Regions from separate parts of the Homo sapiens genome. Here all the other regions are linked to region 1. The links come from fine-mapping of genetic effects on gene expression. A gene starts in region 1. Each other region holds a variant in brackets. All regions are shown on one strand. Distances are between the middles of the regions.

Region 1 (2,674 bases):
ATTTTCGAATGATCTTTGTGGATATAATGTGCACCAATTTCAACTATGAAGCCAGAGGACAAGAACTAATGCATGGAGGTAGGCGGGAATGTGCATTGTTCAGTCAAGAGATACTTGTTGAATTCTGTACACACTCATGAAGTGTTGGGGTTGTTTTTGGTACACAGTTCTTTCAAAAAGCTCAGTTAAAATGGAAGGGGAGAGAGAACCAGAGGTTTTAAAATCAAGGGAAAATTTAGGACCTAATCTTAAAACGTGATTATGCTGAGGAGTTGTAGGCAGTGGAGAGGGTGAAGTTAAAGATGTGCCAAGGACCGCCCACAGTGGGGAGCAGGCAGTGGAGAGGAGCAGGGACATCTAGCCTCCGAGATAGAAGGAAAACTAGTAAGTCTGGGTGTGGACGTAGATATAATCTATGGGGGTTGGTCAGGTGGTTGGGCAAAAGCTGTAGAAATCCATGCCTGAAGGCTTCTGCTTCTCTGAAGTAGAAACCGGGTCACCTGGTAAGCAATGTGGTCCCACTGACTTCTATTTGCACATTGGCCTTTCTTCTAAAAGCAATACACATAACCAACAGTACTTTTCTAAACTAGTTGACTTTTCTGTAAAATGCAGACAGTAGACACTACTTTGTCAGATTGTTGTGTGCGTTAATTGTGCGGACACGTATACTCGGTCAATAAGTATCTGCTTTATCACCGGGCTGATGTGAGTGAGGACTAGGTGGTGGGGCTTCCACAGATGAACGTTTTGATTAATAAAAAATGGACTGAAAGTCTTCGGGTATGACCAATGGCTAAATGCAATTATTTACTCTTGCAATGTGTTCGAGGTCACCCAGCTAGGTCAAGGAGTATTTATGGACAGCCTACTTTTGCCCCCGGACCTTAAGAAGTCCTGCTCCGGGATCAGCCGCCGACCGGAAAGTCAAATTAGCAGTGCCCAGCGCGAGCTTAGAGCAGCCTCTTCCCAAATCTCAGCGGCGGCCCCGCCCCTTCCACACGTTCAGGCCCCGCCCCTCCCTACTATTGGCTGTCCGTCCCCCTCCGCTAGACTGCTCGGAAGACCCGGAGGAGCGGAGTTTTCCTAAGGCAGCATCCGAGCGCCCTCGCTGCGCATGCTCGGGGGAGGCGGATTCCGGGTCCGGAGTTGGAGGCTTTGGGCGGCCGCGGCGTAGCGCGCGGTGCCGGGGCCGGCGGGGAGGCGCGCGCTTAGGGCGCGGCGCCGGCGACGCGGCCACGCGGCGCGCTCCCGAGGAAGGGAGGTGTGGGGTCGGCTGGGGGTGGCGCGTGGACGGGGTGGGGGTGGGGGGAGGGTCGGGTGTCGGCGAGCTCCGCGTGCGGGTTCCGAGTGGCTGCTGGCGGCCTGGGCTGCCGGGGCCGACGCCTGGGTGGCTGCTGCCGCCGCGCCTGCTGCGAGATGGCGATCTTGGGCGCGGAAGGGTGAGGGCGCCCGCCGCAGGAGGAGGTGCCGCTGCCGTGGCCGCCCGGCTGCCGGGAGCCGACAGCTTCGCGCCGGGTAAGGACGGCGCGGCGCGGGGCTGGGGGTGCGAATGGGCAGGGCGGGAGGGGGCACGGGCCCTGAGCCTTGGCCGCGGTGCTGGGCGCCCGGCGCCGTCCGCCCCCGGGCTGGACCCTCCTAGGACCCGTCGGGGGACGGTCCGCCCTACCTTGGCTACCTTCTCCAGCCCGGGAGTCGGGAGTTTTCTGGGGTGGGGTCACGGGTCTTGCCCGGAGTTCGCCCTGGCAAAGGCCTGTGCCAGTGATCCTGGAGCGGAGCGAAGTGTTTCCGTGACTCTGCAGCCGCAGTTCTTAGGCTTCCTTAGCCTTCTCTTCGCCTTCCTCCACCTTTCCCTAACACCTCCCTGAAAACACAAATACATGGACTCATTGCCCGTTCCCTGACTTTCACCCCAATTTCAGCGTTGCAAACCAAGGACTCCAGCTTTGGAACGTCTTTTTCTGACATGTTTTTATCACTCTCCGTTCTTCACCGACTCTGCAGCTCCCCATCCCCCGCCCCCCCAGCGCAACCCCCACCTCCACCTTTTGTGACCTGGTAGGTTCCAGTGACCTTGCAGATTTTACCAGTCCTTATCTTGTCTGTGACTTACAGACTCTCCTTTCATCTTCGTGTTCTTTTTTTAAAAAAATTTAATTTTGTAGTTTGCTCCTTACCTTTACGACCTTTAAATGATCAGTCTTGTTCACAGTCCTTTCTTTGCTCTGCCGATTTGGAGTTTTCTCTGCTGTGGTAAATATATGAAACCTTCATTACCAAAGAAGAGTAGTGTCTGTTATAATTTTGACATTTTTACTCTTTCAGAATAAAATATTTTCCAGGGGCTTGATTTTGCCTTCTTTTTCTATTTGATAAGTTTAACAAATTTTTTTCTGTGTGTGTGTAGGTTAATGTGGAACAAGATTTTGTGTTTCTGCTTTAAAATGTTACTGGTAATAGTAGTGGGAAAAAAAATCATGTCCAAAATTATCTTTGTTTTCCCCGTTTGGTGTTTTTACCTGAAATAGTTGGTTTACAGTTACCTGCATTTTTTTTTTTTAACAAGAGTTCATGTTTATGTGTAAATCCACTTTACCTGCCTCACCAAATCTGTGTGTATTATACAAGCAAAATGCACCTTTTAAAGAAGAAAGTCGTTCTTTTATTGTGTGAC
Region 2 (2,848 bases), 180 kb after region 1:
CAGCCATAATGGGTTTCAGGATAACATTGAGACCAGCACAGAGTCATTTTTCAGAGAGGAATGCTGCTAATAGAAGAAATTTGTTTCCTGGCAGCAATGCAGTAGTATAACTGTCAGCAATTGGTTAAATAATCAGCTGTGCCTGGCATGTTGTTTTTGTAGCTTTTGTATAAGCATTTTTAGGGAAAAAAATAATGCTCTTCTGATATGTGGTGTCTCTTTGCTGTGAGACTGACTTCACATGTAGATGTCTTCATTCTCTGTTGAATTCTTCCCATCCTTGGAAATTTGAAGACTTTTCTGCTGGCTGGTAGAGAATCCTCTACATGTTTTTTTGGGGGAAGCTTTAGCTATTGTTGCTCATTCTATGTTCATCCACAGGGCACTGCATTATGCTTGATATTGCTGACATACAACTTACAAGACTCTAAACTACCTTATGCAAAAAAAAATCATACAACTCACATTTATTTTACAGATTCTGTATTAGATGCAAAAAAACAGTATGCCTGGCACGTGCCAGATTTACAAATTTACTTGCATTATCTCCATTTTTACTGATGAGGAAATCTAGGCCCAGGAAGTTGAAGTTACTTATACGTGGTCACACAGCAAGTGCCAGATGGAGGGTTCAACCGGGCGGTGGCGGGCACCTGAAATCCCAGCTACTTGGGAGGCTGAGGCAGAGAATTGCTTGAACCTGGGAGGCGGAGGCTACAGTGAGCTGAGATCGCGCCACTGCAGTACAGCCTGGACGACAGAGCAAGACTCCGTCTCAAAAAAAAAAAAATTGGGTGTGTGCATTACCCCAAATTTGATCTTGTTCCTGTAATGCAGTAATCTGTTACTATTAGTGCAATAGGAATTCAAAGGAACACCTTAGTATGGATTGGAATAATCAGGATAATCATGGAATGGAATAATAAAAAAATATGAAACATGGGATAGATAAGATAGGATCAGACCCTAGAGGCAGATAGTGATAAAATGATAATAAAATGTGAGCACTTACTGTATACTAGGCACATATATAAATATATAAGATACATATTTTTTGTTTGTTTGTTTTGTTTTTTTTTTGAGATGGGGTCTCACTCTGTCACCCAGGTTGGAGTGCAGTGGCATGATCTTGGCTCACTGCAAACTCTGCCTTCCAGTCTCAAGCGATCCTCCTACCTCAGACTCCAGAGTAGCTGGGATCACAGGCTCATGCCACCACACCCAGCTAGTTTTTGTATTTTAGTAGAGACGAGGTTTCACCATGTTG[A/T]CCAGGCCGGTCTTGAACTCCTGACCTCAAGTGATCCACCTGCCTTGGCCTCCCAAAGTGCTGGGAGTACAGGTGTGAGCTGCCGTGCCCGGCCAGCTTTGTTTTTAAACGGGTTTTCTAGCTACTTCTAAGACTATGCAACCTACTTCATTTTTCTTAGTCTCTATTTATTTAGGAATCTTAGTATTGATTTTTGACATATGTTGAGGACTGCTACTGTTTTTAGAGAGTTCAATAGAATTATCAAAATTTTTAAATAAGATGTTAGTTGTTTTTTGACATTACAAAGGGCTCTTCTAATGATAATCTTTGTTACTTCAGATTTGCTTAGGCATTTTATACAGCACAGGAATCTTACTGCCATATTTAAATATAACAAGATAATGAGTGGATTTGTTTCTGTGGTCCTAGAACTTCAGCTAAATCTCAAAGTGGAGGGCAAAGGGCATTAAATACTATCCCATTGCAAGGATGTTTGCCAGCAGCTCTAGGGTAGTAGGTACCTTCCCTCCTGCAGAACCTGCCCTAGCACCATCAACCTCCACTGGCTAAGTGGACATCCAGATGGGAAATGCAATGCCTAGTTCCTTTTCATGGTGACACCTGCAGCCCCTTTCATTCCCTGGGTTCATGGATGAAGGCAGCTCACCAGCAATACTACATTCCTTCTCAAGTCCAGCCCCTATCATATGCTCCATCCCATCCCCAGTCCTTTTCATATATTGATTGGAGACTGGGGAAGGAGGGGTCTATGGAAGTTAAGCTAACTCTGATATTTCTTAGCAAGTCATAAGGGAAGATGGGCCACACCTTCTCTCTGTAGAATAGTAGGCTTGTCAACCTTGTCTACACATTAGAATCATCCAAGGAACTGATGTCAGGGTTGTACCCTAAACCAGTTAAAATCTCTTTAAGTGGAACTCCTGCATCAGTAGCTTTGAAAGCTCCTCCAGATGATTCCAGGAAGCAGCCAATATTGAGAACCACTGCTGCAAAATATTGGGAGCTGGGGGTAGAGTGGAGGGAAAGGGGGCTTTGGGGGCTTTTGGTTTTAGTCAAAAAATCTTGAAAACAGAAAATATCCCACTCAGTGTCTTGTTAAATAAACAAATAAAAATAAAACTTAATCTGTTTTGTAGTATAATGCTATGCATACCTTTAAGTGAAGGGTCAAGATAATACTTGGAGTTTTTCTGAATGATAAAATTTATAGTTAAGGTAAAAAGAAATTTTTTTTTTTTTTTTTTTTTTTTTAGACAGAGTCTCTATTGCCCAGGCTGGAGTGCAGTGGCACAGTTATAGCTCACTACAGGCTCAATCTCTTGGGTTCAAGCAATCCTCTTGCCTCAGCCTTCCTAGTAGCTGGGATTATAGGCACACACCACCATGCTTGGCTAATTTTTTTTATTTTTAGTAGAGACGAGGTCTTGCTGTCTTGCCCATGATGGTCTCAAATTCCTAAGCTCAAGCCATCCTTCTGCCTCAGCCTCCCAAAGTGCTGGGATTACAGGCATGAGTCACTGAGCCTGGCCAAGAAGATTAGTATGTCTTATTAGCCATCTTAAAAGCTGTATTTTACTG
Region 3 (2,500 bases), 240 kb after region 1:
GACGGTTTCCTCCTCCTGCTGCTAGAAGGCTGTAAGAGAGAAAAATGAGTCTTTGCCACCAGTTTCAGTTTTCCTCCACTGAAATCTCTTTAAAAAAATAGCAACTATTATAAGTATTTATACTGCTTCAGAAATCATTCCCTAGAGGTGAGGGTCCAGGTGATTGTGCAGAGAGTGTCAAGATGTGGGAATAGAAATGGCTCAGTTTTCAATATATTTTTTCTCTAACTCTCACCTCTAAGTCCCACAAATCAAGGACTTGTGGCTGTCAGTATCCTGTCAGATCCTTCATCCCAGATTCCAGAAATGCAGAATCCTTTTGGACTGGGTATCCCTCATTTGCTCCTTCAGATCCACTTTTCACCTCTCCCCATGCTCCTTTGTTTCCCAGGAAGCTGACCTCTGTAGGCTTGCCCTCTGACTTCACTTGGGCTCAGCCATTGGAAAAGACTAATAGGAAATCAGAAAGCAGGAAGAGAGTGGGATCAGAGCATTTATCTCCCCTGTTATTTTCCTGCCAAGCCTTAGGTTAGCAGTGGCTGCAGTTCTCTACCAAAATCTACAGCTCCTGACACATGGATGTCTTCTAGAAGTGCAATTCCCATCACTCTTGATGAGTTCTGGTAAACATACCCTCTTCTTTTCCCATTCAGGCCTCACTGTAGTAACAGTTCCTTTGCTGTTGCTAAATTTGAGATGCATTGCCACCTTTTGTTGGTGTAGTAGTCCATTTTCACCTTGCTATAAAGATACTACCTGAGACTGGGTAATTTCTAAACAAAGGATGCTTAATTAACTCAATTCTGCATCACTGGCGAGGGCTCAGGAAACATACGGTCATGGTGGAAGGCAATTGGGAAGCAAGGCACATCTTATATGGCAGCAGGAAAGACAGAGAGCAAGGAAGTGCCACACTTTAAAACCATCAGCTCTCCTGGGAACTCACTCATTATCACGAGAATAGCACGGGGGGGGTGGCGGGGGGAACTGCCCTCATGATCCAGTCACCTCCCATCAGGTCCTTCCCTCAAAACATGGGGATTACAATTTGAGAAAAGATTTGGGTGGGGACACAAAGCCAAACCATGTCAGTTGGGTACTCTTAGACTTTTCCTCACTTCTGTCAGTAATCTCTTTATTAAAGTTTACTCAATTGCCTCACTTGAGTGTGTCTGTTTCCCACCTGGGCTCTGGCTGATACAACTCTCAACATCAAATGTGAAAGCCAGCACTTCATGATGCCCTGGTCACCTCAGGTGAATCCAATCTCATCTCCTACTATACTCCAAAATCAACTTGTTCCTCAGTGTCATAAGCTGCTCTATAATATAGTCATTCACATACATCTCCCCACCTGGAATGCCAGGGAATTGTGGGCTTTATGTCTTGGAGGGATATAAAAGAGCATTTTGCATTTGAGAAATAAGCAA[A/C]AAAGAGTGGGGGAATAAACACAGAAAGGAATAAGATAAATGAATAAAAAGTCTGTCGTTACCGGTGATCTGAGAAGGAAGGATTGGTTTGTAAAAACAGAACAAGAAAAACCACATTTCAAATGTTTAAAAAAGACACCATAGGATCTGCATTGAGAGGATAACACAACAGATTGAACCCCTTGGAGTTAATCTGTTAGAAACTGAGAAAGAAGGATCACATTAACAAAAGCAGTTTCTACAGGTGGAGAAGACAGAGAAAACACTCTGACCTTTGGAAGCAATGAGATATAAGAAGCTGCATGGGCCCTGTGCCTGAAGATTTATGTTATACAGTATGAACAACTTCTGTTGTTGCAGAAAAGGGAGGATTCCAGTTGGCTGTTAATTGTTAAAAAACTTATATAGGGTTTTAGCTCTGACAGGTTAAGAGCCTGGAAATCATTACTCCTGTCCTTACAACAAGAAAAAGCTGCACAATTGAAAAATTAACGACTTTTCTTAGATCCTTCAGAGAACTGAAGTCACAGGGCAAACTACCGCCCCCAAATCTGGAGAGAGAGGTGAATCCATAAAACTACAGCCATATCTGCTTACTGCAGCAGAAGCCCCTGGAGTCATAACTGGTAAGAATGCTTAAATGCTCATTTTAATAAATTGTTGGAGGCTGAATGTGGACTAGCATGAGAGTGAGAAACTCTTGGGGGCCATGGTTATAAAGTCACTCACACTTTTGTGGGATTTACCACCAGGAACCTCATCAGGTTCTTAGGGTGAAGAGCCAAGGAAGATCCCCTCTCGGCTCTGGCAGGCATAGGGGAAGATTAATCATTGTGAAATATACCCAGAGCATATTTGTTCTCCATACCGCAGGCCTACTATTTAGAGAAAAATACTTTACCAGAGCTTTGTGCTACCTGAGGGAAGAACATTTTTCCCAATGCAGCCCCTTTAAGACTTCCTGTCTTATCTAAGGGAGATGGAAAGCTAAGAAACTCCTGTGAATGTCACAGCATTGGGAAATACAAAAAACTGAAACTTTATCACAGAATTATAAATTGTTTCCCCTT

Alleles and levels. Alleles are on the strand shown, and positions count from the first base shown. SD is a standard deviation of normalised expression in the study named. Not every link is listed here.
With allele T in place of A in region 2, the expression in whole blood of the gene that starts at base 1,135 in region 1 is lower (small effect, 0.38 SD a copy in GTEx).

What was found. PIP is the estimated chance that this variant, and not a neighbour inherited with it, causes the effect.
Region 2: its variant is the best candidate, but not a certain one, in a credible set for the expression of WWP1 in whole blood (GTEx, PIP 0.61).
Region 3: its variant is the best candidate, but not a certain one, in a credible set for the expression of WWP1 in naive CD8 T cells (Schmiedel 2018, PIP 0.87).

The regions. Positions count from the first base shown.
Region 1 is chr8:86,341,413-86,344,086 of GRCh38, forward strand. It overlaps WWP1 (WW domain containing E3 ubiquitin protein ligase 1), which reads left to right and starts at 1,135. Exons shown (of 25, transcript NM_007013.4): 1 at 1,135-1,518. WWP1-AS1 (WWP1 antisense RNA 1) reads right to left here. Exons shown (of 6, transcript XR_007060994.1): 2 at 2,178-2,248; 3 at 1,670-1,864. RefSeq lists a silencer at 1,226-1,685.
Region 2 is chr8:86,525,451-86,528,298 of GRCh38, forward strand. The region is part of intron 2 of CPNE3 (copine 3); the gene reads left to right. Among named protein-coding and RNA genes, the nearest start is that of CPNE3, 12 kb to the left of the region's middle. The variant A/T (reference allele first, on the strand shown) is at 1,268.
Region 3 is chr8:86,579,224-86,581,723 of GRCh38, forward strand. CNGB3 (cyclic nucleotide gated channel subunit beta 3) reads right to left here. Exons shown (of 18, transcript NM_019098.5): 16 at 1-29. Among named protein-coding and RNA genes, the nearest start is that of CPNE3, 66 kb to the left of the region's middle. The variant A/C (reference allele first, on the strand shown) is at 1,431.